3 separate regions of the Homo sapiens genome follow, and all the other regions are linked to region 3. Evidence: fine-mapped expression QTL. A gene starts in region 3. Each other region holds a variant in brackets. All regions are shown on one strand. Distances are between the middles of the regions.

The links. PIP is the estimated chance that this variant, and not a neighbour inherited with it, causes the effect. A credible set is the group of variants that fine-mapping cannot tell apart.
Region 1: its variant is the best candidate, but not a certain one, in a credible set for the expression of ITGB5 in tibial nerve (GTEx, PIP 0.58).
Region 2: its variant is the best candidate, but not a certain one, in a credible set for the expression of ITGB5 in whole blood (INTERVAL, PIP 0.60).

Annotation. Positions count from the first base shown.
Region 1 is chr3:124,854,344-124,864,671 of GRCh38, forward strand. It overlaps ITGB5 (integrin subunit beta 5), which reads right to left. Exons shown (of 15, transcript NM_002213.5): 3 at 4,899-5,103. It also overlaps the pseudogene ENO1P3. Among named protein-coding and RNA genes, the nearest start is that of ITGB5, 28 kb to the right of the region's middle. RefSeq lists an enhancer at 4,465-5,002. The variant C/T (reference allele first, on the strand shown) is at 4,636.
Region 2 is chr3:124,766,198-124,776,525 of GRCh38, forward strand. ITGB5 (integrin subunit beta 5) reads right to left here. Exons shown (of 15, transcript NM_002213.5): 11 at 7,493-7,715; 12 at 2,816-2,916; 13 at 29-148. Among named protein-coding and RNA genes, the nearest start is that of MIR544B, 39 kb to the left of the region's middle. RefSeq lists a silencer at 2,751-2,800 and enhancers at 4,880-4,959, 5,900-6,615, 6,616-7,330, 8,047-8,761, 8,762-9,477. The variant A/G (reference allele first, on the strand shown) is at 5,044.
Region 3 is chr3:124,880,519-124,889,837 of GRCh38, forward strand. It overlaps ITGB5 (integrin subunit beta 5), which reads right to left and starts at 6,847. Exons shown (of 15, transcript NM_002213.5): 1 at 6,413-6,847. The coding sequence starts at 6,482. RefSeq lists silencers at 2,884-3,178, 6,236-6,325, 6,786-7,225 and enhancers at 4,687-5,571, 7,340-8,222, 8,223-9,107.

The DNA.
Region 1 (10,328 bases), 26 kb before region 3:
AGAATTGTCCCAAAGTAGAAACAGCCCAAATGTCCATAAACTAAAATATAGTATATCTATACCTCCACAATGGAATATTATTTGGCCATAAAAAGGAATGAAGTACATGCTACAACATGGATGAACCTTGAAACATGTTGCTAAGTGAAAGAAACCAGCTAAAAGACCCACACATTTTATGACGTATAGGAAATGTCCAGAATATGCAAAACTATATAGAGAGAAAGTAGACGAGTGGATACCAGCGGCTGAAAGGGGAGGGTGGGAGACGGTAGTTTAAGCAGTAACTGTTCACGGGTATGGGACTTCTTTTTGGAAAATGTTCTGGAATCAGACAGTGGTGTTGACTGTACAACCTTGCAAATATACTAAGAACCACTGAATTGTACACCTTAAGTTAGTGAATTTTATGGTCTGTGAATTATATCTCAATTTAAAAAAATAAAAAATGTCCTGCTTAAAGTAGACAGAAATTCTTTTTAATTTTTATTTCCTTCCTGAGACTTACCTTGGAACAATTACTTTGCCTTCATGAAGTGTCTTTCATATTATGCTGAGGCTTGTCCTTGATTAGTCTGCGATAAGTCTGGCAAAGTCTTATATTTCACTCAACGAATAACTATTATGAGGCATGGGGGGTAGGGCAAGGAAGAAGACACAAAAGCATTTCTAAAAATATACAATGGAGGCCCAGCGCAGTGGCTCACACCTGTAATCCCAGTACTTTGGGAGGCCGAGGTGGGCAGATGACTTGAGCCCAGGAGTTCGAGACCAGCTTGGCCAACATGGTGAAACCCCGTCTCTACTAAAAATACAAAAATTAGCCAGGTGTGGTGGTGTGTGCCTGCAGTCCTAGCTACTCAGAAGGCTAAGGCATAAGAATCGCTTGAACCTGGAGGCTGCAGTTAGCTGAAATCACGTCACTGCACTCCAGCCTGGGCGACAGAGCGAGACTCTGTCTCTCTCTACATATATATAGATAGATATATGAAAAACCAACCCCTATATACCTGAAAGCCCTCCCTAGAGTCAGGGGGGAGATACCCTGAGGCAAATATGCATTTTGCATGACTGAAAATTTTGCTAACTGCCACATACCATTTTTCTCTCCCCACAAATTCTTCAGGTTTGCCTGTACTTCTCTTTGTAAATGTTAAAATTATATTTTCAAAATTTTAAGAGGCATCATTGGTTTCAAGTGTTTCTACATTTGGGAAACATATTCACAATGCTTGTAGGTCTTAGGAACTCGTATTTTCATCAGATCTCTTCCTAGTCTTCATCTCTTCAGACTGAACCCTCTTCATAGTCTGGGTGTGTTTTCAGGAGGCAGTCAGCTCCTCCAACTGCTTGACACCACCAGCACTGGGCTCTCCACCACGACACCTTCCGCAAGACAGAGCTACACAGCATCCACACTGTGGTTTTGTATCAACATAGGATCACGGTTTCCATTTTATTTCTAATACCAGAAATCATATCATAATGCTTAGCAGGAGATGTAACTATACCAAATAAGAATGATTTTCTTCCTTAACTGAGCATATATTGAGTTTTATGCATAAATACGGATTGTATGCAAACCTGCCGTTACTCAAATCACTTATTTTTTATTTTGGGTTCTTGTTGTTGTTGTTGTTTTTGTTTTTTAGAGTCTCATCTTCATCTAGACTGGAGCCTCAAACTCCTGGGTTCAAGGGATCCTTCCACCTCAGTCTCCCCCATAGCAACGGGGTCTCACTATGTTGCCCAGGCTGGTCTCAGATTTCTGACCTCAATCGATCCTCTCTCCTTGGCCTCCCAAACCACTGAGATTACAGGCATAAGCCACCACACCCGGCCTTCTCTAACTCTCTAACTCTTCTACAGGAACTGCTGTAAAAGCCAGTTGATAGTCAAACCAGACAACCATCTCTGCTCACACTCACACCTTAATTCTCATTTTAAAAACTGGAATTATTAAAGTGTGGACATCTTTGGATTTGTGTGATGCAACTCTTGTCTAAGTTAAGTCTATCCTGAAGAAGAGAGACTTGCCACCATAAAGGATACTTCTTGGAGAGAACACCACAGGCTTTGAGAGCTATTCTAGATGAGGAGTTCAGAAAATGTAAATTAAAACCTTCCTCCACAATGGCTCTGAAACTACAAACTCTTTTGGAGGTGTGAATTTTTTTCCTAATTTTCAAAGATTATTGAATGAAAATAGCACGATTATACATACATTATGATAAGTATATGAAAAATACAAAAAGGTGAATAATACAGAGGACATAGTAAAAATGAAAAATAATTTTATGTTAAAGTGGATTATTTTTCTAGAATTTCATGTGTTATTGCTATACTGTTACTATGATAAAAAAGAAAATACACTATTCTTATACAACACGATGTTCCAACATATTAAGGGTCTATAACAACTCCTATATCCCTTTCGGTCCAAACCCTGGACCCTGAGTCTGTCTTCACATAAGAGATTTCTCTTTCCCCAGAGGACATTACCAACCATCTGCCCACATAAGTGCTCAGCTGACTTTTTTCTACCCACTCACACAGCTCTGTAAGAGTTCCCTTCCTTTTCTCTCTCAATTCAGTATCTCACTAAACAAAAAGGCTGAGTGTTGCTTACAGTGAGAAGGTTTGCAAAAATCCTAACTTCAATTAATCTCAACACTGATTCCTGGGCAGGCAACCCAATAGTTTAAGCTTCTCTATCCAGCAGGGCCAACTTACACTCTTCTTTTGTTTCTTATTTTCAAGACAATTAAAATAGACAAAATAAAACATTTCTCAACTATATGATGACTTGGAGCTTTCTTTAAAAACTCTTGGTGCAGACCATACAATGATAACCACAGCAACAACAACGAGCTTTACTGAGTGCTTACCACATGCAGCACTGTGTTAATCCATTTCCAAGGCACTGAGCATCCCTGGTCAAACCTCCATCTGGTACCCTCGGCCACTGCTCTTTGAAAATAATAAAAATTTTAACTTTGAAAAGTTCACTGATACAAAAAGTCCATTTAAGCCTCTGAACATGCCCATGAGGAACAAAGGTGACAAAGACCCTAAGATGCTGAGAGATGGAGTAACTTGCCCAGGGCCTCCAAGCTAGGGACAGAGCCAGAGCTAGAACCCAAGAGAGCCAGCCAGATCCATGATCTTTCCACTGCTACAAGCTTCCCTGGAGTCTAAATAAACCATCTACAAATAGCTACTGCCAATGGTTTCCTAGACCATGGGATAGAAGAAAACAGCAAAAAATCAGTAAAATGTGAAAAAATCTGCCCCTTCCCAATAGCGTAATACTTTCCAATTTAGCCACATGCACATCTAACCCTTTGACATTGCAAGGCTTCTAATATGCAGAATATTCAATGATAAAAGTGGTGAACTAGAAACAGCCATGGGTTTGTGGTTACCAAGACCTGGGGCTGAATCGATTCACCACTTACTGAGAGACCTTGAGCAGGTTGTTTCCTTGTGTGTAAAATGAGAGCTACCTGGCCAGGCATGGTGGTTCACGCCTGTAACCCCAGCACTTTGGGAGGCCGAGGAAGGTAGATCACCTGAGGTCAGGAGTTCAAGGCCAGCCTGGCCAACATGGTGAAACCCCATCTCTACTAAAAACACACACACAAAAAAATTAGCTGGGCGTGGTGGTACACATCCAGCTATTAGGGAGGCTGAGGCAGGAGAATCTCTTGAACCCGGGAGGTGAAGGTTGCAATGAGCCAAGACTGTGCCATTGCACTCCAGCCTGGGTGACAGAGCGATACCCCATCTCAAAAAAAAAAAAAAAAAAGATAGCTACCTTAAAGTTAGGTCAAGTGTTTAGCACATAGTAGGTGTGCAAAACTGTTTCTTTATATTACATTATAAGTAATTATATTACCGTTTCCTTATATTAAGCAACTCTAAGGCTTGCAGGGCCCCATGGTCACAAAACAAAATATCTCCACTCTAAAAGTTTGTCCTTGCAGAATGCTACAGACTCAAATGGAATTTGCTGACAGGAAAAAACACTTTTTCCTAAAAGTGGCGTGTTTCCTGAGCAACTTGCATTCACTAAGGAGTAAATCTACCAGCATCCTCCTAGAATAAACCACAGCATTATTCACAAGAGCCAAAAGTTGAAGACAACCTAAATGTTCACTGACAAATGAATAAACAAAATGTGATACACCCATACAATGAAATATTACTCAGCCAAAAAAGGAATGAAGTGCTGACACATGCCAAAATATGTGTGAAACTTGAAAACATTACACTTAGTGAAACAAGTCAAACTTCAAAGGACAAATATTGGATGATTCCACTTATGGTAGGTATCTGGACTAGTCAAGTTCAGAGTCGGAAAGTAGAGTAGGCAGCCACTACACCCTGAATGACTGTAATTTCTGCCATCAGTTGCTCCCTGATTTAAACAAAATTTAAAAACAAAAATAAATGAAAAATAAAAAATAAAGTAGAATGCTGGTTACCAGGAACCAAGGGAAAGAGAGAATGAGGAGTTAATGTTTAATGGGTATAGATTTTCTGTTTAGGACGACGAAAATGTTCCGGAAATAGATACTGCTGATGTTTATACAATATTGTGAATTTAATGCTGCTGAACTGTACACTTGAAAA[C/T]GCTTAAATGGTAAATGTTATGTATATTTCACCACAATTGTTTAAAAATAGCAAAGATCTTCCTCTGTCCACAGGAGCCTGTCCACAGACACATCAATAAGAATATACTCTGCTTCCTGAGGTCTGAGCCTTGCCTCCCCATCACCATCTCGTGGCTCTGATCTCAGCCTGGCCTGACTCATTGTCCCATTATTAACAAGTCCCACCTCCCCCATGGGCCTTCCTGATCCCAGAGCATCCAGCCCTTTCTGTGGGCAACTCACCGGGCCGGAGGTTCACGGCAATCTCCTGTGGTGTCATCTGAATGACGTCCCAGCCTGCAGAGCCCGAACCCTTGCTGCTGAGGGGCAGGCTCCTCAGGACATGGAAGCTGCTGGCTGGGCTCTCTATCTCACCTCCACAGCCATTTTTGACAAGGTTTGCCCTCAGATCACACCGAGAGGTGATGGACCGTGGGCTTCCGAAGTCCTAGGCAGGGAAAAAGAGGAAGAGAGCAGGAGGTGGTCAGGGTGTCTCCCGAAAACATCGCATGTCGTGGCTGCGTCTCCATCTGGTTGACCTTAAATTCTCTACTTTCCATTTTCATTGTCTGAAAATGGAGGAAATGGTAATCCCTATCCCAGATGCTTCACCAAGTATTGTAAGGATTAACTGAGCTGCTGGACATGACAGCATTTTGTAAACTGTAAACACATAATAAAAATGTTCGGTTTTGTTGTTATTTTGATGGTTAAAATGCTCCTAACTGCCTACATGATTAGCAAGAGAAACAGAAATGATCAGAAGTTGTATAGCTAAAATTTTTTAAAAGTTGTTATATATTGCTGGGCATGGTGGCTCATGCCTGTAATCCCAGCTATTTGGGAGACTGAGGTGGGAGGATCGCTTGAGATCAAGAGTTTGAGACCAGCCTGGGCAACATAATGAGACCTCCTCTCTAAAAATAAATAAATAAGTAGATGAAATAATATATAGTTAAATAAATAAGATGACATATAAGTAGCTGAAAAGTCTTCCCTTGGGCATTCAAGAGTTAACCTTTAAGTTGTTCACTTATCATCTTTCACAGGCATTGGATGCTGGATAATCATTCAGGAGAACAATGTGGCAGTACAGGTCATATCCACTGACCCAGTGCTCTACTCCAAGAAACTTATTACAAGAAAATCATCTAAAGAGAAAGGAGAAACTCTATGTGATATATACGGCAGTATTACTTATAATATAATCTTTAAAACTTGCAAACCTAAATCCTTAAACCATAAGAATAACATAGCATATCACTTCAATAGATGACAGCCATTACAAATAATTATGGGAATTAAGAAGAAATTTAAAATATTTACACTAAGGAGGAAAAAAAAACCCAAAATATAGAATTGTATTTATTAGGATTTGAAAGAACAATTTTAAATGAGGTGTTATAGTAAAGTGACAAAAACATTTTTGTTTTTATCTTTGTTGTTTGTATGATAACGACACATTGATAAGAAAAATCTTTCTTTGGGTTTGGGAGAAAGCTGGACATCAGAACAACTCAACCTCATTTGGGACACCAGAAGGTTAAGGTATTAACTTTAAAATGAAACAATATACTTTATTATAAATCATGAAGCCTCCCTGGTCATTTCCGGCAAAGGGGTTTCACCTTTTCCCTGGTGAATGTGAAAAACAAGATTCCCCCCACTCTGGCAGGCTGGAAGCCAATGCTGTCCTATGAGTCTTTCTGGAGGAGTTAGGACACTGGTCCCTTCCTCTTCCCTCTGGAACACTTTGCCAGAAGCCTCATGTGAGTCAGCATCCCTTGACCACTTTGTTAGAAGCCAGACTGCTGGCAGAGGCACAAAAATCAGAGGAATGCACCCTCCCTCAAGGTCTCAGATGTCCTGGAACTACCCAATGCCCTTTAGAATCCTTATAAAATTCAAGATCAAGAAGTCAGCCTGGTGTGGTGGCTCACACCTGTAATCCCAGCACTTTGAGAGACTTGAGGCAGGAGGATCATTTGGGCTGGGAGTTCAACGCTGCAGTGAACTGCGATTGTGCCACTGCACTCCTGCCTGGGCGACAGAGCAAGAGCCTGTCTCAGAAAAACAAAAAACAAACACAAAAAAGAACAAGAAGTCAAGAAGACGCTGCAGTGTTTTTAAATAAGTAAAGCCAGATGTATTGTCCTAAGCCTACGGTATGTTTGTTTATATTCTGGGTTGTTTTTTTTTAATAACGATTTTTTATTTGTGCATTAAATCCCCGAGGATCTTGCCTGTCAACAACCTCCAGGACTACATCAAAGGTATAAGTGGCTCCATAAACACTTGTTGTGCAACAAGGTTAGAAAAATGAGTTTTCTAGCCAGCCATGGTGGCTCATGCCAGCATTTTAGGAGGCTGAGGCGGGAGGATCGCTCGAGCCCAGGAGCTCCGGGCTGCAGTGGGCTATGATCCATGCCACTGCACTCCAGCCTGAGCGACAGTGAGACTTTGTTAAAAAAACAAAACAAAACATATATATATATATACACACACACACACACACACACACACACACACAGAGAGATACACATATATATATTATTCTGGCCTTAGATTTTTTTTTTTTTTTTTAGACACAGTCTTGCTCTGTCACCAGACTGGAGTACAGTGGCGCAATCTCAGCTCACTGCAACCTCCGACTCCCTGGTTCAAGCAATTCTCCTGCCTCAGCCTCCCGAGTAGCTGGGATTACAGCCACGCACCACCATGCCCAGCTAATTTTTGTATTTTTAGTAGAGACGGGCTTTCACCATGTTGGCCAGGATGGCCTCGATCTCCTGACCTTATGATCTGCCCGCCTCGGCCTCCCAAAATGCTGGAATTACAGGCGTGAGCCAGTGCACCCGGCCTCTGGCCTTAGATTTAAAAGCAGAACTTTCTAAATGGGGTTCCAGGTGGTCAAGCTTGGCTCTGATATAGCAGTTCTAGTGAAGCAGTGAGAAGAAAAACACAGGGTTCTGGAAAAGGAGGGGTAACGACCTGAGGGCCCTGCCAGTTTGGGTCTGCTGTCTTGAGCTGTCTGAAGTAGATGTCTAATTAGCTTTCCAGAGCTTGAAGAGCTCAGGGGCTTGCCTGCCCAGTGCTTACTCTGCTAGAGAATTTCTGAATTTCTCACTGGCGAACTGAGCCTTGCTATCCAGCCCCTCTGCTTCTGAGGAACTGACTATACTTGGCCCAGTTCTGTTTGTCAAGGTGCACCTGTTTTGATCAGTCCAGTGCACAGCCCCACCACCAGGGTGGCAACGGAAGCATGGTCAGTTTTTTCAGAGTAATGAGAACCCCTGACACCTCTCTCACTGGTCTGGACCAGCTTACACTCTGGAATAGACTAGGGCACAGAGCCAACCTGCTTCACCTAAGCAGGAGGCAGGTGCACAATTCCTTCAGTTTGGTCAATGAGATGATCCCCCCCACTGCTGGGATACTTGCACTGGCAGTGAACTTCATCTGAGCTTCCCAACATCCTGCTCAAAGGGATTTTTGATGGATACTACCCATCATTGCAGAAGAACTTGTACAGGGCCAAATGTATCTGCTGGGACCATCAGGAGACTTAAAGTCCAAATCATATTTCCCAGACCTGAAGAACTGTGAGGCGGACAGGTCAGTGCCTATTACAACCCTAGTAGTGTCGCTGGCTTTCCCAAGTGCATGCTGTAGCAGCTCTGGGGCTTCTTTATTCTCTAGGATGTTAGGAGCAAAGCCCTCTTCATGCCCTTCACTGGTAGCAGTTTTCCCATGTTTCTCCTTAAAAACATTCTTCAGCTGAGGTTGTGATAAACCTCAGCTCCAGTGCATACGAGGCTTCCCTAAAGTTAGCTGCACCAACAACAAGAATCATGGGCTCCTGCACTGTCACCTGGTTGCCAGTGTGGAAACCACCATTAATCACATTAAAGCTGCAACTTGCAGGGTTGCACTGACTTCGGAAGCACAGACCAAGTCAGCAACATGATGGTACAAAGGGAGTCCTATTCTCAGCAACTCCAGCTTTATAGACAGCAAAGGACACACCATATGCCACGCGGACCAAAGTTAGATTTCTTCTCAGTGCCAGGCATCTCTATCATCAGTGTCAAAGTTCGCTTTCTTGCTATCTAGGTCAGGCCATATGGTTTTGTTGATGTGCTCAACAACTTTGAGGCATCTTTACCTATATATCGAGTCCTGTCATTATTTTCCCAGAGCTCTAGGGACTCAGAGCCACTAGCTGAGGCACCACGGGGCAAGGCAGGTCTGAAGAAGCTTTTGAGGGTAAGGCAGCTACCTTAACAGGGAAATTCCCCTAAGAGGTAAAGATCTCTTTTGGCACGGAGTCCAAACAATTGCTGTGACTAATTTCTTTTGATTTATTTTTGACCCGATAAGGAAAGAGTAAGCCATAACTGATTTGTAGCTATAGGTTCTTGTTGCCCAAGAAAAGGAACTGAGAGTGCTGCGGACTCAACAGAGGGAGTTAGGTCACAAGCCAAGAGCTTCGCCTCTATTCCATGTGTTCCTTTCTAAGTATTTTTATTTTCATTTTTGAGACGGAGTCTCACTCTGTCACCCAGGCTGGAGTGCAGTGGTGTAATCTCAGCTCACTGCAACCTCTGCTTCCTGGGTTCAAGTGATCCCGCCACCTTAGCCTCCGGAGTAGCTGGGATTACAAGCATGTGCTACTATGCCTGGCTAATTTTTGTATTTTTAGTAGAGACAGTGTTTTGCCATGTTGACCAGGCTGGTCTTGAACTCCTGACCTCAGATGATCGCCATGGCCGCCCAAAATGCTGGGCTTACAGGCATAAGCCACAACACCTGGCCTAGATATTTTAATTTTGAACAAGGATAGATGCATATTTAAAGAGAGAAAACCAAAATGACAGAGACCAGGGGCATATCTAGTAATGGCTATGACCTTCCAGGTATACAAACATTATAAATCTGGAAAATGTCTCTTAACCCTTAGTAGTTTAAGGTAAAAAAAGAAAAAAAAAGAAAAAAAAGAAAGAGAGAGAGAGGAGAAAGAAAGAAGAAAGAAAGAAAGAAAAGAAAAAAGAAAAAGAAAGAAAGAAAGAAAGAAAAAATGTCTCAAGACCTATATTTCTTTTTTTTTTTTTTTTTTTTTTTTTTTTTGAGATGGAGTCTTGCTCTGTCATCCAGGCTGGAGTGCAGTGACACGATCTCAGCTCACTGCAAGGTCCGCCTCCCGGTTCAAGCCATTCTCCTGCCTCAGCCTCTGGAGTAGCTGGGACTACAGGTGCCCGCCACCACGCCCAGTTAATTTTTTGTATTTTTAGTAGAGACAGGGTTTCACCGTGTTTGCTAGAATAGTCTCGATCTCCTGACCTCATGATCCACCCGCCTCAGCCTCCCAAAGTGCTGGGATTACAGGTGTGAGCCACCACATCCGGCCCCTCAATACCTATATTTCTAAGCTCCATATTCAATGAATACGGATGCCTCATATCATAAAGCCTTAGAGAAAAGGCAGACTGATGTTTAAGAAAATCCTCCTTCCTAAGCAAATTAATGCAGGAACAGAAAACCAAATACTACGTTTTCCCTTATCAGTGGGACCTAAACATTGAGCACCCACAGACATAAACATGGGAACAACAGATACTGTGAACTACTGGGACAGGAGAGTTTATGGGTCGAAAAACTACTTAATGGGTACTA
Region 2 (10,328 bases), 110 kb before region 3:
GGGCCGAGCCCTTGCAGCCCTCACCTACCTGGCTCCCTGAGGACGGTCAGGTTGGACTTCCCACTGGGGAGCTCCACATAGGTGAACATCATGACGCAGTCCTTGGCGGTTTTGTAGAAACATAGCACAGCCTCCTGGTCATCTTTCACTGGAAGAAAACCAAGCGGGAATGGCCTGAGTCTCTCTGAGCAGCCCACAGCCACTGATGGTCGGGGCAGGGAGCCGAGTGCCTTGAAAAAGGAAAGGGCATGGGGGGTGTGGGCAGAAAATCTTAAGGGGAGGCTGGGCCTTTGAAGATGAGTTCAGTTTTCTCACACCAAGAATGCAGGCCCAGGGCTGAATTTAGATGGCTTTGGGGACACGTGGAACACATTAGAGGATCTCCAAGCCTCTGAAGTGTTAGTCGGGGGTGATGTGAAATAACAGAAGGTTTTAATGGTTTCGGGGTGGGGACGGGTGAAGGGATTGGCCACGGAAATTAAAGGGATAAAGAAAGAAAGAAAAACCATCCCAGCCCCCTTTGAGGCTTGAGTGGGGCTTCATATTTGAGAAACAGCCCAGGCCACTTGGGGCTGAGAGCTGGCCACAGAGGCCAAGAGGCAGCAACTCCTTCCTGGGATGCAAAATCAAAAAGAACCACAGGGCAGTGAGGACACTGGGTGAGAGGCTGGTGCCCACCGTGGTGGCCATGCCTGGAGATAAAGTGAGACAGTGTGGAACTCAGGCTGTCCCCAGCCTGGCCCTGAACGTGGCCCGGCCTCCCTCCTCCATATTAAGAAGCCCCTTCCTCAAGCTGCCTCAGCAACTCCCTGCCCCCTTGCTGCCATTCCCCAAGGTGGGGGTGTCACAGTCCCCTGTCCAGGCATTACCTACATTCCAAGGCTTCCCTGGGAGAGGGTTAGCGGGCTGTTTTTTGGAGAGAAAGGAACTAGGGGAAGTGCAAAGTGAGGCAAGGGGTGAGGAAATGCAGTGGCAATGGCAATGGGTCCTGGGGAGGAACAGAAGGTGAACACTAGGGCGGTAAATGCTTTCCAGCTCTTGCCTTTTTAACCTTTTCAACCTTGCTGCTAGACGGAGCTGTAACCTGGAAGCAGATGAATTAGTGTGGTTATCAGACACGAAAGCCTGGACTTTCTGTCTCAGCTCCCTTCTGGGCTGGGTGAGTATGAGTGAGCATGTGAGTGTGTGTATGAAAAAAGCTTGGAAGAAAGAAGAAAAAGGGTAAATGATGGATTGGAACATAAGCTTTCTCTGCTGCTCTCTCAGAGGACTGGGTTGGGAAGCAGCTGTGCATGAACGGCTGTCACTGCTATAAACCAAGCGAACCAGTCCTTGGGCCACAGGAAGGCATTGTTTCCTTCTCTGACCATGTGTGCCTAGTTAGGGGCAACCAGCCCAGGTCTGCTGGCAGAACCTGAGGTCGGCCAGGCCCTGAGCTGCAAGATAGAAGCAGGGGCAGGAAGACAGGCATGTGAGGAACCAGACTGTGGTCCACTCCCCACAGTCTCCTAAGGAGATAGACAGCACCTGGCACACAGTAGGCGCTCAACGAATATGTGCTGGATGCATATATAGCTCAAATATTAAGAAGGAGCTGGGCATGGTGGCTCACACCTGTAATGGCAGCACTTTAGGAGGCTGAGGCAGGTGGACTGCTTGACCCCAGGAGTTTGAGACCAGCCTGGGCAACATGGTGAAACTCCGTCTCTACAAAAACAAAAATTTGCCAGGCATGGTGGCACATGCCTGTGGTCCCAGCTACTTGGGAGGCTGAGGAAAGAGGTTTGCCTGAGCCCAGGAGGTCGAGACTTCCAGTGAGCTATGATGGTGCCACTGCACTCCAGCCTGGGTGACAGAGACCCTGTCTCGAGACAAAAAACCCTCAGAAGCCGTGACTGTAGTCAGTCAAAATAGGCAGGTGGGAACAAGGAAGTCTACAAAAGATGTACGTTAGGACCAAGACAGACAGGCAGCTGGGGGCCAGGAGTTTGCAGAAGCCAGAGGTGAAGATAGAGGGGAAGCCTGCCAGTGAGGGGAGCCTGAGACACAGATTCCCTTTCAAGGTGCATAATTTCCCCCTCACCATTTAAACCATTTTAAAGTGTACAATCAGTCGTTTTACTCAACTCACAATGTTGTGTAACCATTCCCACTAATTCTGAATATTTCCATCACCACAGAAAGAAATCCACACCTGTTAGTAGTCAATGCCAATTTTCCCTTCTCCCTAGCATCAGGACACCACTAATGTACTTTCTGTCTCCATGGCTTTCTCTGTGTTGGACATTTCATATGAACAGAACCATATAATACATGGCTTCTTTTGCTCCGCACTGTGGTCAGGCCTCACCGTGCCGTAGCGTGTTTCAGTGCTTCACACCTCTTAGTGGCTCAATAGTGTCCACTGTATAGATGGACCACACTTTGTTTTCTTTTCTATTTATCCGTTGATGGACATGTGGTTCATTTCCACCTTTGGCTATAGCGAATAATGCTGCTGTGAACATTTTTGTACGTATTTTTACATGGACATATGGACCTAATCCTCTAGGCTGTATACCTGGGAGTGGAATTGGCACATTGTATGGTGATTCTACGTTTGACTTTTTAGGAAACTGCCAAGCTGCTTTCCAAAGTCCGTACCATTCTACATTCCCATCAGCTGTGGATGATGGTTCCAGCACCGGGTCCTCATGGGGAGCCCACAGTTATGCCCAGGAAGCCTGGGCAGTGCCTCCTGACTCAAGGCTAAAACTACCCTCCTCCCCAGGAAGGAGAAAAACCGTGACTGCCCGGGTGGTGGCAGCACACTCACCGATGGTGTCCACCCATGTGATCACCTCATCCCTGCATAGGCTGTGGCAGGTCTGGTTGTCAGGTTTCCCAGAGTGGAGCAGCAGGCACTCGACGCAATCTCTTTGGAAAAGAGGAGATAAAGGTGGGTGTCAGATAATGTAGAACAGTCCCACACCTGTCCCTGAGCTCCTGACAGTGCAGGACCTGGGAAGGCTTTCACTTCTTTCCAGCTGCAGATGTTCAGCCTCAGGGAATGTTTCTGCTCTGCCTTTCTTCTTGTTATGGGAGGAAGCCCAAGGGTTCTTGGAGGAGCCTGTGTGAGTTTAGTGGCATGTCTTGTCTACATGTCAGGTTGCAGACCTTTCAAATTCTGACACCAGGAGACAAATCCATCTGCACTCTGGTCCATCTAATGCCTGGTGAGGAGTCTGCTCCAAGCCAGAGGTTTCTGGGTGATAAAACAGTATTCCTGGCCTCCCAGAGCTCCTCACACTCCCATGGTCAGAGCTCAATGCCCCAACATTGTCCTAGTTCCCCACATCACGCCCTGGTCATCACCCAGGGCGGGGATCTCAACCCTCCTGCACGTTCAACTCTCCAGGGAGCTTTCAAGAGAAACTCCCAGTACCTGGGCCCAACCACACCTCCGGGGACTGGGCTTCCTGGGCAATTCTGATGCATGTCGAGGGCTGAGATCCACTGTCCCGGAGAATCTCGGGCTCCAGCCCCCTTCTCCCTCTCAGATAGAGCCCATCTGCCAGGTCCCCCGTGGCCTGCTGCCCACTTACCCACGAATCAGTCTACACTAGGCTCTGGCACAGGCTCTAGGGTGATGGCTCCTCCCAGGGAACCCTTGTTCTTTAACAGGGGCCTCCTCTAGAAAATGGATGAGCAGCCAAAAAGTGACACCTTGAGCCTCTCTCCTCCCACCTCAGGCTAACAGCAGGTGGTGGCTCAGATAGTGGGTGAAAATGCTTAACTACAACGTTCAATTAAATGGTCATTATTATACTTTATATCATCAAAACCAAGTTGCACACATTCTTTGTCTGTCTTCGGAGACATCTGGGAGAACAGGATTCCTGAGGTCACAGGGTGGGGAGCTAAGCTCTGGCTGCCGGGCTGTAAAGCTGATGTTCAAGGGGAGAGGTCCCAGGCTCCTCTGGTGGCTGGGGGATGGGGCTATAAGATGGTGAGCTCGAAGCTCCAGGGAGGAGTGGGCTGGGGCATGTTGCTCTCAGGGACTTTGTGATGCAGTGCTGCCTGGTGGCCTTCGAGGAGGGTGAGACACCAGGAGAGGCCCCTAGGAAACCGGGTCAGGACTCAAGAGCCAGGTGTGCCAGGGAGGCCATCAGAGTGCAGGGGGTGACCTCAGCTACACGAGGGACAGCCGCTGTGCCCCCACAGGCCTGTGGGGACCAAAGGGGCTGGGTGTCCAGAAAGCTCTCTGGCAAAAATACAGAGGGATGTGCAACTGCAATGTAGAGCCTTTATCATCATCTGTTTCTTAACTCCTCGGGATTAAGAGGCCAGCTACTAAAACATTTCCAGTGCAGAAACTGCGAAGTGGAGGAGCAGAACTGGACGGGAGCTCTGAGACCATTTCACTAAGTCCCCTTTATTTTACGGAGGAGAACTTGAGGTTCTGCAGCCAGGTGCCCCACCTCTCAGACTAGGCTTCCTAAGAGGTTCTAACATGCTTAGGAGCTCAACCATCCCTGAAATGGCTACAAAATCCCACTCTCCTGGGACTGACTTTATGGAAATATTCTGAAGTTAGAAACAAGATGGTAACTCTCCCCACAGTCACAGCCCCGGAAGGCGGGCAGCTGAGACCTGGCTGGGGGCCAGGAAGGGGTGGTTCCAGCTTCAGTCATTCATGCTGACCCAGCTGCCCCCGATCCCCCACCCTCCCCCTGCACCAGCCTCCCAGATTAGCACAGGGCTAAGAGGGCTGCTTTCTCTCCCGGCCAGGATTCTCTGTCCCTGCCATCTGATTCTCTGTTGTTAAACCATAGCTCCAGGCTGCTTCCAGGAAACACTCCCTAAGTATCCATGTGGACATATCAGTCTAACTCATATGCCCCATGTACTGGTTGAAACTTGTAATATATTGTAGTCATGTACTAAAATAAGTCTGCCTTTTAAAAAAATTAAGTTGTTTAGAGACACTTTGCTCTTGAGAGCCTGTTAACTGAAATCAGCTGGGTGTTGAGTGTGAACTCACCCAAAGTGAAAAGTGTGGTT[A/G]GTTAGATCCAGAAAACGAAGACTGGCTGCCCTGAAACCCCCAGAAAAAAAAGGATGTAGGACATTCAAAACCTGGTGCCTCCTAACAAGCAGCAAGTAGAAAAAACAGACTCTGATGTAAGTCACCATCAAAAGGACTTCGTTTAAAAAGAAAAAAAAGTTCCACCTAGGCTGTGAAAGAGACAGAGGGTCAGTGTGGCCCAGAGACAAATAAGAAGGAATAGTGGGCTGGGTGTAATGGCTCACACCTGTAATCCCAACACTTTGGGAGGCTGAGGTGGGAGAATTGCTTGAGTTCAGACGTTTGAGACCAGCCTGGTCAACATAGCAAGACCCTGTCTCTACAAAAAAATAAAAATTAGCCAGGTGTGGTGGTACAAGCCAATAGTCCTAGCTACCTGGGAGGCTGAGGCAGGAGGATCACTTGAGCCCAGGAGTTCAAGGCTGCAGTGAGCTGTGATGGTGCCATTGCACTCCAGCCTGGGTGGCGGGAGTGAGACCCTGTCTCAAAAAAAAAAAAAAAAAAAGGAATCGTGATATTCCCTTGTGGCATCTCTTTGCTCTCCTTGCTCCCTTCATATTGTGTAATGAATAATAAATTATTAAGTCTATGTCTTCTAAGAAATAAATGCTTTAAACATTTAAAGCTAGAGCTGTTTTCCCCTGGGCCTTTGACTTAAAGCCAATCCTCCATTGCCTGCTGCTCCATAGGAAGGCAAGACTCATTTGATGAGCTCCATGTGTATTGTCCTAGCTTGACCCCAACTCCCCATTTACCTAGTGTGCCCCAAGGACTAGAAGCATAGGCTCAAAAAGGTTCTGCTGCTGGGAGCTGGAGGTTGGGGGCACCTCCCTCGGATACAAAACGTGGATAATGGCTGACTCTGTGCTGGGATGGCCACAGCTATCTGGGCTCCAGATCCAGGATCCTAACCTTCCCCGGGCTGTTTCTACTTGGATCTGTTTTTTCTCTGCTCTTAGCAGGTCTAAAGTGAATCTGTTTTTCTTCTTCCTTACTCTCCCCCATCTCCTCCAATTAAACACATTAAAACCCAGCCCTGTCTATCTTGTCTCTCCATCTGCAGCCAGCTTTCAATTACCCACGCCTGGGTTATTTATGGCAAATGTCCAACCAGGGGTTCTGCCACCCAGAACGTTTCCGAGCACAGACTGACCAGCAGCCGCTGCAGGCGCAGGGAGCATGAACTCATTTCATTATCAGCCCGAGCCAGACATTTGGAAGGGAAATCTGCCAAGAGAAAATCACAGATGCGTTCCTCAGCCAAAGAGAAGCGACGTTTGTATTATGATTTGTTTCTGATCCTCTGTGTCCCTTCCTCCTTAGCATGGGTAATGATGACACAGCTGTTTCTCCAGCAAACTCCAAGAGCAAATGTCACTCCTGCTTTCCAGGGGCATCATTCTGTAATTCCCTCTCATTTGCACTCTGGTGGAGCATGCGGGGCTGAGCAGGAGGAGGTCAGCACGGCTATGGGAGGCCATGGCCGAGTCAGCGAAGGCTGGGGCCCAGGTCTAGACAATCTCTGCATTCAGCAGCAGCACAGAGCCCGTGTTCTATTATCTGTATAAATGGAGCAGAAAATTCAAAAGCCATTTGCAGTGGTTTCTGGCATGCCTTATCTAGGTCGGGTGCCTTTCTCTCCAATTTACTTTTTTTTTTTTTTTTTTTTGAGACGGAGTCTCACTTTGTTGCCCAGGCTGGGGTGCAGTGGTGCGATCTTGCAATCTCCGCCTCCCAGGTTCAAGCCATTCTCCTGCCTCAGCCTCCGGAGCAGCTGAGATTACAGGCACGTGCCACCACACCCCGCTAATTTTTGTATTTTTAGTAGAGACGGGTGTTTCACCATGTTGGCCAGGCTGGTCTCAAACTCCTGACCTCAAGTGATCCACCCGTCTTGGCCTCCCAAAGAGCTGGGATTACAGGTGTGAGCCACCATGCCCGGCCTCTTTCCAATTTACCTTCTGATGATGTTTGTCAGCATTTCCCATAAGGGTTCTGTGAAACACTGTTTGGGAGATATCAGTGTGGGGGATTTAATTCATTTGAAAAAAGATGCACACTGTATTCTCCTGTGAAAGCACACAATAGTACACTCAAGGCTCTGAGAAGGTGCTATTTTTGGTACCAACACCAATTTAATTTCATTTAACTCTGTGATTTCGTGATTTCTAAACGTGTTTAGGAACAGAGTAGCAGTTTTGTATTTCTTGTTCTGTTTTTGTTTTCTTACAAAACCCTTATGGAACCAGCATTTGAAAGCCACAGTTTCAGTTACGGTTGGTAAGAATGCGGCTCCCCAGCGAGGCTTGCTGGGTGGGAGATGCAGGAGGTGAGGAGTGGAGGCTAGCCGGCCCTGAGGGCTGCCTGGCTGGACCACAGGCCTGGCCTGGGTGAGAAGTAAGGTGGGGCTGTCAGTGGAACCAGTACCTCTTGGTGCTGCATGCATCCGGGCAGGTGGGGCACTTCTCACACATCTCCCCAAAGGCCCCCGGCTCCGTGCATTGGCACTGCCCACAGAGACAGTGCCCACGCTCGCTGCAGATCTGGCCATCTCTGCCCCGGCATGTGCTGATGTCTGTCGAGCAGTTACAGTTGTCCCCGATGTAACCTGCATGGCACTTGCATTCCCCGCAGTGACACTCGCCATGGCCTAAAAGGATACATGTGGCACATCAGCACCTGCTCACCTTTACACATGAGCACATAACCATCTGGTGCCCCACATGCCAGGACTGGGATTCAGCAGAGAATGGAACACCAACTCTGCCCTCAGAGCCTGTTTGGGGAGATAGACAGAGGGCCTAGAGCCAGCATGAAGGGACAGCAGGGGACCCTGGCAGCGGGTGTGGCTGGGTTGGGTCTAGACTGGTGCTCCAAGTTGGTCCAGAACTTGGCCAAGTTGGGCCACAGGGCCAGGACCCAGGGAAGCTTCCTCCTGCTTCAGTTGTGTGAATAATGGCCCCCAAATATGTTCCCACTCCAATCCCCAGAGTATCACTGTTACTTTCTACAGCAAAAGAGCTTTCACAGATGAGATTAAGTTAAGGATTTTGAGATGAGGGATTCTCCTGGATTGTCTCTGTGGGCCCTAAATGTAATCACCAAGGTTCTTCTGAGAGGGAGCAAGGGAGACTGGACTACAGAGGAAGGTGGCAGTGGGACAACAGAAGCCAGGATGCTGGCTGCTGCTCTGAAGATGGGGAGGATGCCAAGAGCCAAGGAATGCGAGGAATGCAGCTCTGGAGGCTGGAAAGGCCAGGAAGCCGATGCTCCCTGGGAGCCTCAGAGGGAATGCAGCCCTGCCGACACCTCCATGTTAGCCCAGTGAAAATGATTTCAGGCTTCTGACCTCCAGAGCTGTAAGAAAATAAATCCGTGTTGCTTTATGTCACTAAATCTGCGGTCATCTGTTACAGCCATAGCAGAAAACACGGTTGTTCTCCCTGAGTCCTAGTTAGAAGCTGAATTCCTGCCCAGGGACCCGAAACCCAGAAATGGATGATTTAGGAGCAGATGCTGAGAACAGCAGCAGCAGCAGCAGCAGCTAACACTCACCAGTGCTTCCTATATGAGCACCTTACACGTAGAAATGGGATGAATCCGCACAGTGACTTATGGGGCAGGCATTATTGTCCTTGTTATATAAGGGGTGAAACCAAGACCCAGAAAGGTGAAGCAATGGTTGATGGTCACACAGCTAGTGGCAGCAGAGCCAGGACTCAAACCCAGAGAGTCTGGCTCCAGAGTCCATGATCTCAGTGCCAAAGTCTACTGCCTCCTATGAGCACAGGCAGCCAGGACTAGAACCTGCAGGGGGATGCCCTGGCCCTTCCTTGCAGGGGGTCCTCTCCATCGCCTGCAAGGGTGGAGAGGCGGGGGCTGCCCCCACTCAGCAGGTGTGAGGGGCAGGAATATCACTCGGCTCAGAGGAATGTGTGTGCTTGTGAGAAAGCGAGTGTGAGTGTGTATGAGTGTGTGAGTGCAAGTGTGTGTGAGGAAGTATTTAAGTGTATGTTTGTGAGTGGGTGCAAGTGTGCATGAGTGTGTACAAGTGTGAGTGTATGTGTGTTGGAGTGCAAGTGTGAGGGAGGATGTGTGTGAGTGCGAGCATCTGTGTGTGTTGGAGTGTGTGTGTGAGGGTGTGTTGGAGTGTGAGTGTTTGTTCTGGAGTGTGAGCGTGCTGGACTGTGAAAAGACTAGATAGCACCGTCTTCCAAGGGGACCAAGGGCCTGACAGTGGAGTCTCCATTTTCTACACAATCAGAGGCAGAACGCAGTGCTACAATTGGTATTTTTTAAAAAATCAACTTTGTATTATTTTTTTCCCTAATGCCATTATGTGAAGGCTGATATTAATACAACCAAGAGTTTCATTTGCTGAGCACCACTCATCAACTAGTGGGTGACTGGAGAGGCAGGGTGGGGAGACCTTTCATTTTACTTCCACATCTGAGTCAGTTACCTGGCTTGTTAACTGGATCCCAGCACCTTCCCTGGACGACCAATGTGTGTGACCCACAATATAATATAGGTCAGAACTCAACTCCAGAAAGCCTCTTCACCCGCCACTTAACTTCCTGCCCCTGCTTCCCCTGGCTCCGTCCACTCTCTGGTGCCCAGAACCTGTAGGCGGCAGGGGGACCATCTGGACAGCCAAGCCTCCCAACCCTCCTGTGCTCAGACAGCCTCTCTGCTTACCCAGGGGTCTCAGAGCCACAGCAAATGTGTGCTGAGCAGGTGCCCTCCCATGTCACAGGCAGCGCTGAAGCAGATGGCAAGCCCTCCAGGAGAGGGAAGGAAAGCCAGACTCGGGCCCGGAGTCCGCTGTGGAATGCAGTCTTAACTGTGTAGATGCGGGCGTGTGAGGGGTAAGCCACTGGAAAGGGCAGTGTCTCGCAGCTCAAGGGTTCCATAGCAGAGGCTGGGGCAATGGGCAGCATGAGCTCATCCCTGGAAGGGAGAGGGCGGTCCTGCCCCTCCTCTCCACCAGTCTGGGACCAGCACCACTTTTGAGCCTTGGCAGCAGGAACTCCCCACGGGGAGCCTTCACAGGTGAAATGGATCCAATCCACACAACTCCCTCACCCTCTGGCCTCAGGGAGCACACTGGTCAAGAGCCTGGTTTCAATTAAAATGGCTCACTGTGAGGGGATTATTCCCCACCCCCCCAACATTTTGTTAGGAAAACTTCCAAACCTGCAGCAAAGTTGAAAGGATTGTGCAGTGCACATACATATCCTCCCCACCCAGATCCTACCTTCAC
Region 3 (9,319 bases):
GTGGGAGGAGCAGTTGAGCCCAGGAGTTCAAGCTACAGTGGGCCATGATCACGCTAATGCACTCCAACTTGGGTGACAGAGCGAGATTCTGTCTTTTTTTAAAAAATAAATAAATAAATAAAAGAGACACCGGGCACAGTGGCTCATGCCTGTAATCCCAACACTCTGGGAGGCTGAGGCAGGCAGATCACCTGAGGTCAGGAGTTCAAGACCAACCTGGCCTACATCGTGAAACCCTATCTTTACTAAAAATACAAAAAATTAGCCAGGCATGGTGGCACGTGCCTGTGATCCCAGCTACTTGGAAGGCTGAGGCATGAGAATGGCTTGAACCTAGGAGGCAGAGGTTGCAGTGAGTCAAGATCACACCACTGTACTCCAGCCTGGGCAACAGAGTGAGACTCCATCTCAAAATAAAATAAAAAAGAAAGGGAAAAAGAAAAGAAAAAGTACATATGTAAAAGTTTGTTTGTTTGTTTGTTTGTTTGAGACAGAGTCTCTGTCTCCCAGGCTAGAGTACGGTGGTGTGATCTCAGCTCACTGCAACCTCGGCCTCCAAAGTTCAAGCGATCCTCCTGCCTCAGCCTCCTGAGTAGCTGGGATTACAGGTGCACACCACCATGCCTGGCTAATTTTTGTATTTTTAGTAGAGACTGGATTTTGCCATGTTGGCCAGGGTGGTCTCGAACTCCTGACCTCAGGTAATCTGCCTGCCTCGGCCTCCCAAAGTGCTGGGATGATAGGTGTGAGCCACCCTGCCTGGCCAAATCTTTTAAATAAAGTTTTTCTAAGCCCATTAAAATCCTGGGGTGAGAGAAGGGATCATCTGAGTACCAAGCATTGTGGCTGTGTCAGGGACACAGGTAAATAAGACCAGGGCTATTAACCAGGTAGCAGGTGAGACAGACCAGCTGCAGCCCCCAGTCTCTCTAATGGAATGGGCCATGAAAGCAGGAGGAGGAGGAGATAGTTCTGCTCCACCCAGGGATGTAGGGAAGGAGAACAGGATATACTGGGTATAAAAGATCAGAGGACTTGTTCTGTCACTTATTGGTTATGTGACCTAGGGCAAGTCACTTAACCTTTCCAGGCCTCAGCTTCCTCATGCAAACAACTCAGGGAGTAGACCAAATGGCCTCCATACCAGCTCAAAAAATCCTAACACAAAGCCAGGAGTGGTGGCTCATGCCTGTAATCCCAGCACTTTGGGAGGCCAAGGTGGGCAGATCACCTGAGGTCAGGAGTTCAAGACCAGCCTGGCCAACATGGTGAAACCCCATCTCTACTAAAAATTAAAAAATAAGCCAGGTGCGGTGGTGTACGCCTGTAATCCCAGCTACTCGGGAGGCTGAGGCAGGAGAATCGCTTGAACCTGGGAGGCAGAGGTTGCGGTGACCAGAGATTGCACCACTGCACTCCAGCCTGGGCAACAGAGTGAGACTCCAATTAAAAAAAAAATCCTGACACATTCCAACAGAATCTCTTTCTCCCAGGATGTTTCTTCCTAACAAGCCGCATGCATAGTCCCTGACTTCAAAGCTAGCTGTGGAAGGCAACAGGGAGTTGAGGACGGGATGCATCGCCCTCTTCACCTCCCAATTACCAAGATTCAGGTTCATCCATTATTCATTCAACAAATATGTGCCTGGTGCTGTTGTAGGCATGGAGGATACAGAGATGAATAAAACCAACAAGACTCCCTTATTCACGGAGCTCACATCCTGGCTGGGGGAGAATTCTACTTAGGGGAAATAGTGAAGAAGATATGTAGTTACATTAGATGGTGGTGAGTGCTAAGGACAAAAATTAAAGAAGAAAAGCAGATAAAAAGAACTCGGGATATAGGGAGGAGGTTGCAGCTTTAGCTGGGAGCGGCCAGGGAAAACTTGGCTGAGCAGGAGATGCTAGAAAAAGGGTTGCAGGGTGGAGGAAGCCGGTCATGCAGATATCTTGGAGGACAGTATTCCAGGCAGGGAGAAGGGCTGCCATGGGAGCATGGCTGGCACGCTGAAGGGACAGTGGGAGGCCCATGCTGCTGGAGCAAAGGATCGAAGGGAAAGTGGTGAAGGAAAGTCAGAGAAGTAGGTGGAGAGTTCGTGGAGCCTGGCAGGACTCTGGGAAACCATTCGAAGGTTTTAAGCAGAGAGATATGATCTGACTTGAGTTGGATCTCAGGATCACTCTGAGGGACAGTTGAGAATAACTAAAGAGAACAAGTTGCAGAAGTAGGTCCCAGCTCTACAAGAGACAACCAGCTCTGAAAATGTCTGGCTGGAGTTGGGGAGGGAATCCTATAAAGAGAGGGCAGGGTACCCCGCAGTGCCTTCAAAGCATCAGCCTTAGGGGATGAGTCAAGCCTGTCTTAGAGCAAACTTTTCACCATGAGGCCCGGGAAGTAAACCCTGCATTCAACGGAAGCAAGAAGCCTCAGAAACAAATGGGTGCCTCTAAATAAAGCATTCCTTTACATTTATAGAGGCCATTAATCCCATTCGAACCGGAAAGAAGGAAAACAAACCACGGCAGTCAGTTCTCCAAGGCCCTCGGCTCCAGCCAACTGGAAATACCTGTGAAAAGAGACCCTATCCCATTAACCCAGCTGCACACTGCCATGTGAAAGGGGCCCTATTATTTAAGTAGTTTGTAATTGTCCCACATTACTGATATCGTTAAAGCATCTCAGAATATTTCCATGGCCAGGCTGAATAAGAAAAAGTAGTTACCAGGCCACGCAGGCACAAAAGGCCTTTTGCCAAACTACTTAGATATTTTAATTCCCCGTTGCCTCAGTAGCTAAATAAGCATGGAGAACAAGCAGGCGGGGAATACTAATTAGAGCTAATTAGACCCTGCCCTCTTCTGCCTCAATCCCCTTTATAAAAAGCTCCCCCAACTCAAGGATGATGGAGTTAAAATGTAAATCCATAGGATAAACAGCAGTCTACAGACCAAACCCACTGTTTGTATTTCATTGTCCTGTCAGCTCTAAACCTGTGCCTGGTTACCTACAGAGAGCTGCAGACCCAGCCAAATTCCAACAACCCCATCACAGACCACAGGAAATGTGGTAGGGGGTTGGGGGTAGAGGAAGGGTGCTGCCAACATGAGTCCACTAAATAAAACAAAGGGCTTTCTTAGGATGTGCAGAGCATTCACTAGAAGAACATTCGATTGCTTTTTTAAAAAGAAATGAATGTGATAGCACACATAATTCCAGCGGTGTTGCAGGATCCTCTTTATAAGACGGTGTTCCTCTCTCTGTCTTAGCAAAGGCAGCGTGGAAAAGCCTCACCTCAGTGAGACCCCTGGTTTTGTGGGAAGACCACATCCTAGGATTCTGTCTGAAGGCTCTTGGCCATAAGATAATAAAAAGAGCAGGAGATAGCCCTTGGTGGGGACGGGAGGGGGTTGTCAGCCGGCCAGGGACTTGTTTGAAATGAGCCCCTGAAACCTAAGGTCAGTTTCCTGCTGGAAATCCGTACTGAGATGAAAGTGGGGTTAGAGCAACAGAGAGAGGCACTCAACCACTGGTCCAGGAACACCCAGGCAGGCATGGCCCTGAGGGTCATCTCTTTCTTTTCTCTGAGTAACTAGGTTTTTTTCTTTCAAATAATGTTCCTAGTGGCAAGACAGAAACACTCCCTGAATAAAGTACCTGTAGTGCTTCAAGAAAACAAAGAAGGGAAGGGAAGCAAAAAAAAAAAAGAAAAAAAAAAAGAATGTTGAAGTTAATTCAGCAACACTGAAAAACTAGGAGAAATGACACAGATGTGAGTCAACCTCTGCTAATCCTGAGAAGCTTCAGGGCCCTAAGAGGTAAGCAGCAAGTTCTGGAGGCCAGTGCCATGGCTTGCTCCACCACCACCACCACCAAAACCTGTAGTCAAAGAGATGGGCAGAGGCCAGCCGTGGTGGCTCACACCTGTAATCCTAGCATTTTGGGAGGCCGAGGCGGGCGGATCACCTGAGGTTGGGAGTTAGAGACCAGCCTGACCAACATGGTGAAACCCTGTCTCTACTAAAAATACAAAATTAGCCAGGCGTGGTGGTACATGCCTGTAATCCCAGTTACTCAGCAGGACAATCACTTGAACCTGAGAGGCAGAGGTTGTGGTGAGCTGAGATCATGCCACTGTACACCATCCTGGGCAACAAGAGTGAGACTCTGTCTCAAAAAAAAAGAAAAGAAAAGATAGGCAATGGGAAAACAGGACCCCAAAAGAGTTGCAAATGAACCACCATGCTCAGTGCTTTTCTCTTCCTTAAGCTGAGTCGGTAGGACAAAGGGCACTGGACCAAAAGCCATGGTCCCTGGTCCACCACTCCTGACCCAAGTAGAGGGGAAGGGCAAGTCACTTCCTTCCTGAGCCCATATGAGAAAATGGACATCACCGTGAAGATGTACGTGAACTCTGAAAAAGAGAAAGCAAGATGCAAGTGGAAAATAATGTATTTTTAGAAATTATTCGCAGCCAGGCGTGGTGGCTCATGCCTGTAATTGAAGCACTTTGGGAGGCCAAGGCAGTTAGATCACCTTAAGTGAGGAGTTCAAGACCAGCCCAGCCAACATGGTGAAACCCCATCTCTACTAAAAATACAAAAATTAGCCGGGCATGGTCGCAGCGCCTGTAATCATTGCTACTTGGGAGGCTAAGCCAGGAGAATTGCTTGAACCTGGGAGGTGGAGGTTGCAGTGAGCCGAGATGGCACCACTGCACTCCAGCCTGGGCTACAAGACTGAAACTCTGACTCAAAAAAAAAAAATTATTTGCAACTAGAAATTATTATTATAATTCTGTTTGTCAGAATTACAGAATGTCAAGCTGGAAAGGAACTTAAAAGCCATCTCCTTTGGCAGTTTCTGAACTTTTGGATTTCAAAGAAAACTAAGATTTAAAAACAAAACAAAAGAAACAAACAGAAAAAGAGAAGGGGAGCTTAACATAGGGTTGTCAGATTTTCTTATTTTGCCAAAATTAAAAACTACTAATATTATTAAGAAGTATTAAAAGAAAATGTTCCCACCAAAAAAAGAAAAAGTGCCTAATTTCAAACTAAAGGAAAGTCCTTGTGGAGCAGGGGAGCGTTGACAACAATACATTCCTGTGTGATGCAGGCTACATCTTCCTGCTCCTCGCTTTCCCTAGGGACCCATGAAAATATCCGTGATGGGCACTGGCTGCCGGATGGGTGTTTGGAATCCACTCATCTACTCTCCAAGCTCTGGAGTGATTATTTTCCCATTTAAAACAAAAACCAAAAACCTTGCTACAGTATTAAGTTTGAATTAGGGTCTGAACGAAGTTATTGTTTGCTCAGACCCCTCCTCCGCTCTTAAACCTAAACCTCCACTGCCTTCATGTAAATGAGACACCGTGGGGGAACAGTCCTCCCTTCGGGCAGCCAGGCAACCACTTGGCTCACAAGAGCAATCAAGTATCTCCGGCTTGAAAGTTAATAGAGCACTATTATTTCCTAAAAGAAAGGAGAAAATCCGCATCCCAAACAAGTGCATCCTTCCTCGAGGGCCTCCAAACTACCACGTCCAATCATCTCCCAACTCTGAAAAGTTAGAGCAGGTAACCGAGGGATCCTTGCAACGCTGCCAGCCCACCGCAGCGTCGGGCTAAGGCAATCTCCACAGCCCCTGTCCTCTGCTCCAGAATCCTCCACAGTTAGGGGAGTGTGAGGCTCCGAGCGTGTGCAAATCGCGGGATAAAGTCGGGCAGAAGGAATTTAATAGGGAAGTCCCAGGTGGGGCTGTGGTTTGGGACGCGGGTGCCCCCTCGGGTTTGCGGTGGCCTAGGCGAGGAGGAAGCAGGCGGGGGGCGGGGAGGGTGGGGGCTGCATCTTCAAAGGCAGGCGGCTAGCCTAGGCGCAGCGAACTCCAGGATTCGCTGTGGGCCCTGTGCACCCGCTGTTCCAGGAGGCGAGCCCTCCGGAGTGGAGGTGGCCCCGGGCTTTGGCTGGGGTTTCGAGACTCCCTTGCTTCTCCGGGAACAGGGCACCGACGGCATCCCCCCAGCAGCCCGCCCGCTCCCGGCCGGCCACAAGGACCGCTTTGTGCCCGCCAACGGAGAGCCCGGGCCCCAAGGCAGGGCTGGCGGCGGTCCTCCCCGTGCCCTGGGCGCGGGCCCTGGCGGGCTAGGTCAGCAGGCCGGCCAGCCTGTTTACACAGGAAGGGAAGCTCCTCCTCAGCCCGGGAGGGAACAGGAGACTCACGACAGCCCGGCGGGGCTGCGCGCGGGGAGCGCCCCGCGGGGCTGTCCCCCAGCGACTGGCCCACCAGGGAGTGCCCCGAAGGCGCCCTCCGCCCTCAGGCACCGCCTGCGCTCCCCGCCCCTCCGAGACGCCCGCCCGCGGCTGAGTGTGCGACAAAGTTTCTCTGGGCGCCGTGGGCGGCGCGGCTTACCTGCGAGCCGGGGCAGGAGCGCGCAGAGCCCCAGGAGGCAGGCGTACAGCGGCGCCGGGGCCCGCGGCATGGTGGGGCGCCTCCCTCAGCGGCGGCGCGGTCGCTGCACTCCGCGGGGGCCGGCGGCCGGGGCTGGGGCCGGAGCGCGGGGGCCGAGGGCCGGGGGCCGCAGCCGCATGCCCCGCGCGCAGCTCCGGCTCACGGCGCCCGCGCTGGCCCGCGCCCCGCCGCCACCATCCGTCCCGCAGCACTCACGGCCGAGTCCCGGGACCGCGGCTGCCCTGGCTGGCCGGCCGGGACTCCTAGTGTGTCGCCGCTCGGGACGGCCCCAGCGGGCTGCTCCGGGTAGGGGAGGGGCTGGCTCCGCTCGGCGGCCGCGACTTGGGCTCCGAGACGCGCCCAGCGCCGAGACTCCCCCGCGCGCCGGCACACTCTGCCCCTGGCCTCCGCCCCTTCCCTTCCTCCCTCCGGCCCGCCAGGCTCCACTTTCCTCCTCTCCTTTCTCCTCCCCTTCTCTCCCCTGCCAGGCCCTCGCCCGGCCGCCACACGGTCAGCTTACGGTGAGGCGGGGCGGGGCGAGCTCCGGGCCGGGCCAGCTCCGCCCTGTGCGGGGACCGGCCCGGGACGCGGAGGCCCTACGGGCCCAGGTGGAAGTCGCTTGCGACTCACTTGGGGCGTGGGGGGCTCGAAACCACTGAGTAGAGCCCGCTCCCGTTGCTTAGCCGCCCGTCGCCACGGGAAAGGGGCGGGGCACGCTGTATTAGGCGAGCCGAGATTACTTGGGCCAAAGGCGGTTGCTAGACTGCGAGAGGGAGAGCAGGTACGGGGGTCGTGCCGGTACCGCCTCATCCTCCCAAAGCCTCACTGCCGGCGGCCTGAGATGGGACGTAGACGCCCGCGCGTGGAACCGCAAAGCGACTTCTGGATGAGCAAGGGAGGGCGTGGTGGGGCGTGGAGGCACAAGTAAAACCTACATTTCTTTTTCTTTTCTTTTTTTTTTTTTTTTGAGACAGCGTCTTGCTCTCACTCAGGCTGGAGTGCACTGGCCCAGTCTTGGCTCACTGCAGCCTGGACCTCCTGGGCTCAAAGGTTCCTCCACCTTAGCCTCCTGAGTAACTGGGACTACAGGCGCGCGCCACCACACCCGGACAATTTTTACATGTTTTGTAGAGATGGGGGTCTCGCTGTGTTGCTCAGGTTAGTCTTGAACTCCTGGGCTCAAGCATTCCTCCTGTGTCTGCCTCCTAAAGTGCTGAGATTACAGGTGCGAGCCACCGTGCCCGGCCCACTTTTCACTTTTTAACTTTTGCACCTTTCAAGGATTTGAGACTGGCCAATATGCCGCTATATTTCGTTGTCCTTACTGATAATCTGTCAGTTTCCATGATCAAACTGATAGACTCAAAAACATATGCTCAGGCTTTCATCTTATCATTTACATATAAGCTGGATCTGAACTAGCCAATAAAGAGTGGGGTGGGGTCTTCCTCAGATGGTGCAGGAAAGGATGCCTTGGGCTTGGATTCGCTACAAGTGCGTTTAGAGTGGAGTGGTTGATAGGCAAGAGAAGAGGCGACATTCAGGTAGGGGAAAATAACGATAGAATACCTACCAAGTACAGAGAGCACACTGCCAGCCAGGCACTGTTCTAAGTCCTTTACCCATATTAACTCATTTCATCCTCCGACAACCCTACTGTTATCCAGTTGAGGAACCGAGGGACAGAGGGGTTAACTGCTGGAGGAAGTGACAGCTAGGATGCCTCGTTCAAAAGTGCAGCATGGCTTGGCTAAAACTGAAGCAGTAAGGGGGAAAGAACAAAGGGGTCTCACCTTTGCAGGCCAGGGACCTGGTGGAAGAATGGCTTGGAGGGCCCAGTGGAAAACTGTCCTAACTGCCCAGCTCAAGGAGTTTGGATGTTAACCTTTATTTCTTGGCCTCCTCCCAAACTCTAACAAGGTGGTGCCTCAATGCCTGAGGAAGTAAACTTCTTGAAGTACAATATAGTGTGCCTGGGGGCAAAGATGCAGCAGTCCATAGCAAGCTCCTTTATAGTATTTGTGAAAGGAAAATAAATCTCAGGGCCCCCAAATCACTAAGCCAGGAGAAAAATCAAGCTGGGAACCGTGTCAGGCAAACCTGCCTCCCATTTTATGCCTAATTAAGATAGCTAAGAAGCTACATACCTCCCTCACAATTTACCCACAGGAAATTCCTTTTGGACAAAGGACAGACAGAACTCAAAGTCATCCCTCTGAGGCTCACCTGAGACAAATGAATACCTGATTGCTCCCTCTGGCCTATTGTTTATGTAAAAATGCAGATTCACTGAGCCAGACTAAATTGTGTATTCAGTGGAAGGCTGATCAAGGACCCAAAAGAATGCAACCTTTTGTCTCTTATCTGCTTCTAACCTGGAAGCCCCCACTTCAAGTTGTCCTGCCTTACAAAACCAAACCAATGTACGTCTTACACATATTGATTGATGTCTCATGTCTCCCTAAAACGTATAAAAGCACACTGTAACCCCGACCACCTTGGGTACATATTGTCAGGACTTCCCGTCACTGGCACATCCTTAACCTTGGCAAAATAAACTTTCTAAATTGACTGAGACTGGTCTCAGATATTTGGGGTTAACATATTCTATAATATCCTCATGTTTGTTTTGATGTAAAACGCTTGTCCCTAAACATTTTACAGGAGCTGTCCTGGGTTTATCTTGGAGCTACCTGTCTCTTAGGTCAGTGGCCTTGGAGCTACTCTTATGCCAGTTTGAGAGGCAGTGATTATAAATAATGGGGCCAGCGCGTTGGCTCATGTCTGTAATTCCAGCACTTTGGGAGACCCAGTCGGGTGGATAGCTTGAGGCCAAAGTTCGAGATGAGCCTGGCTAAACATGGCGAA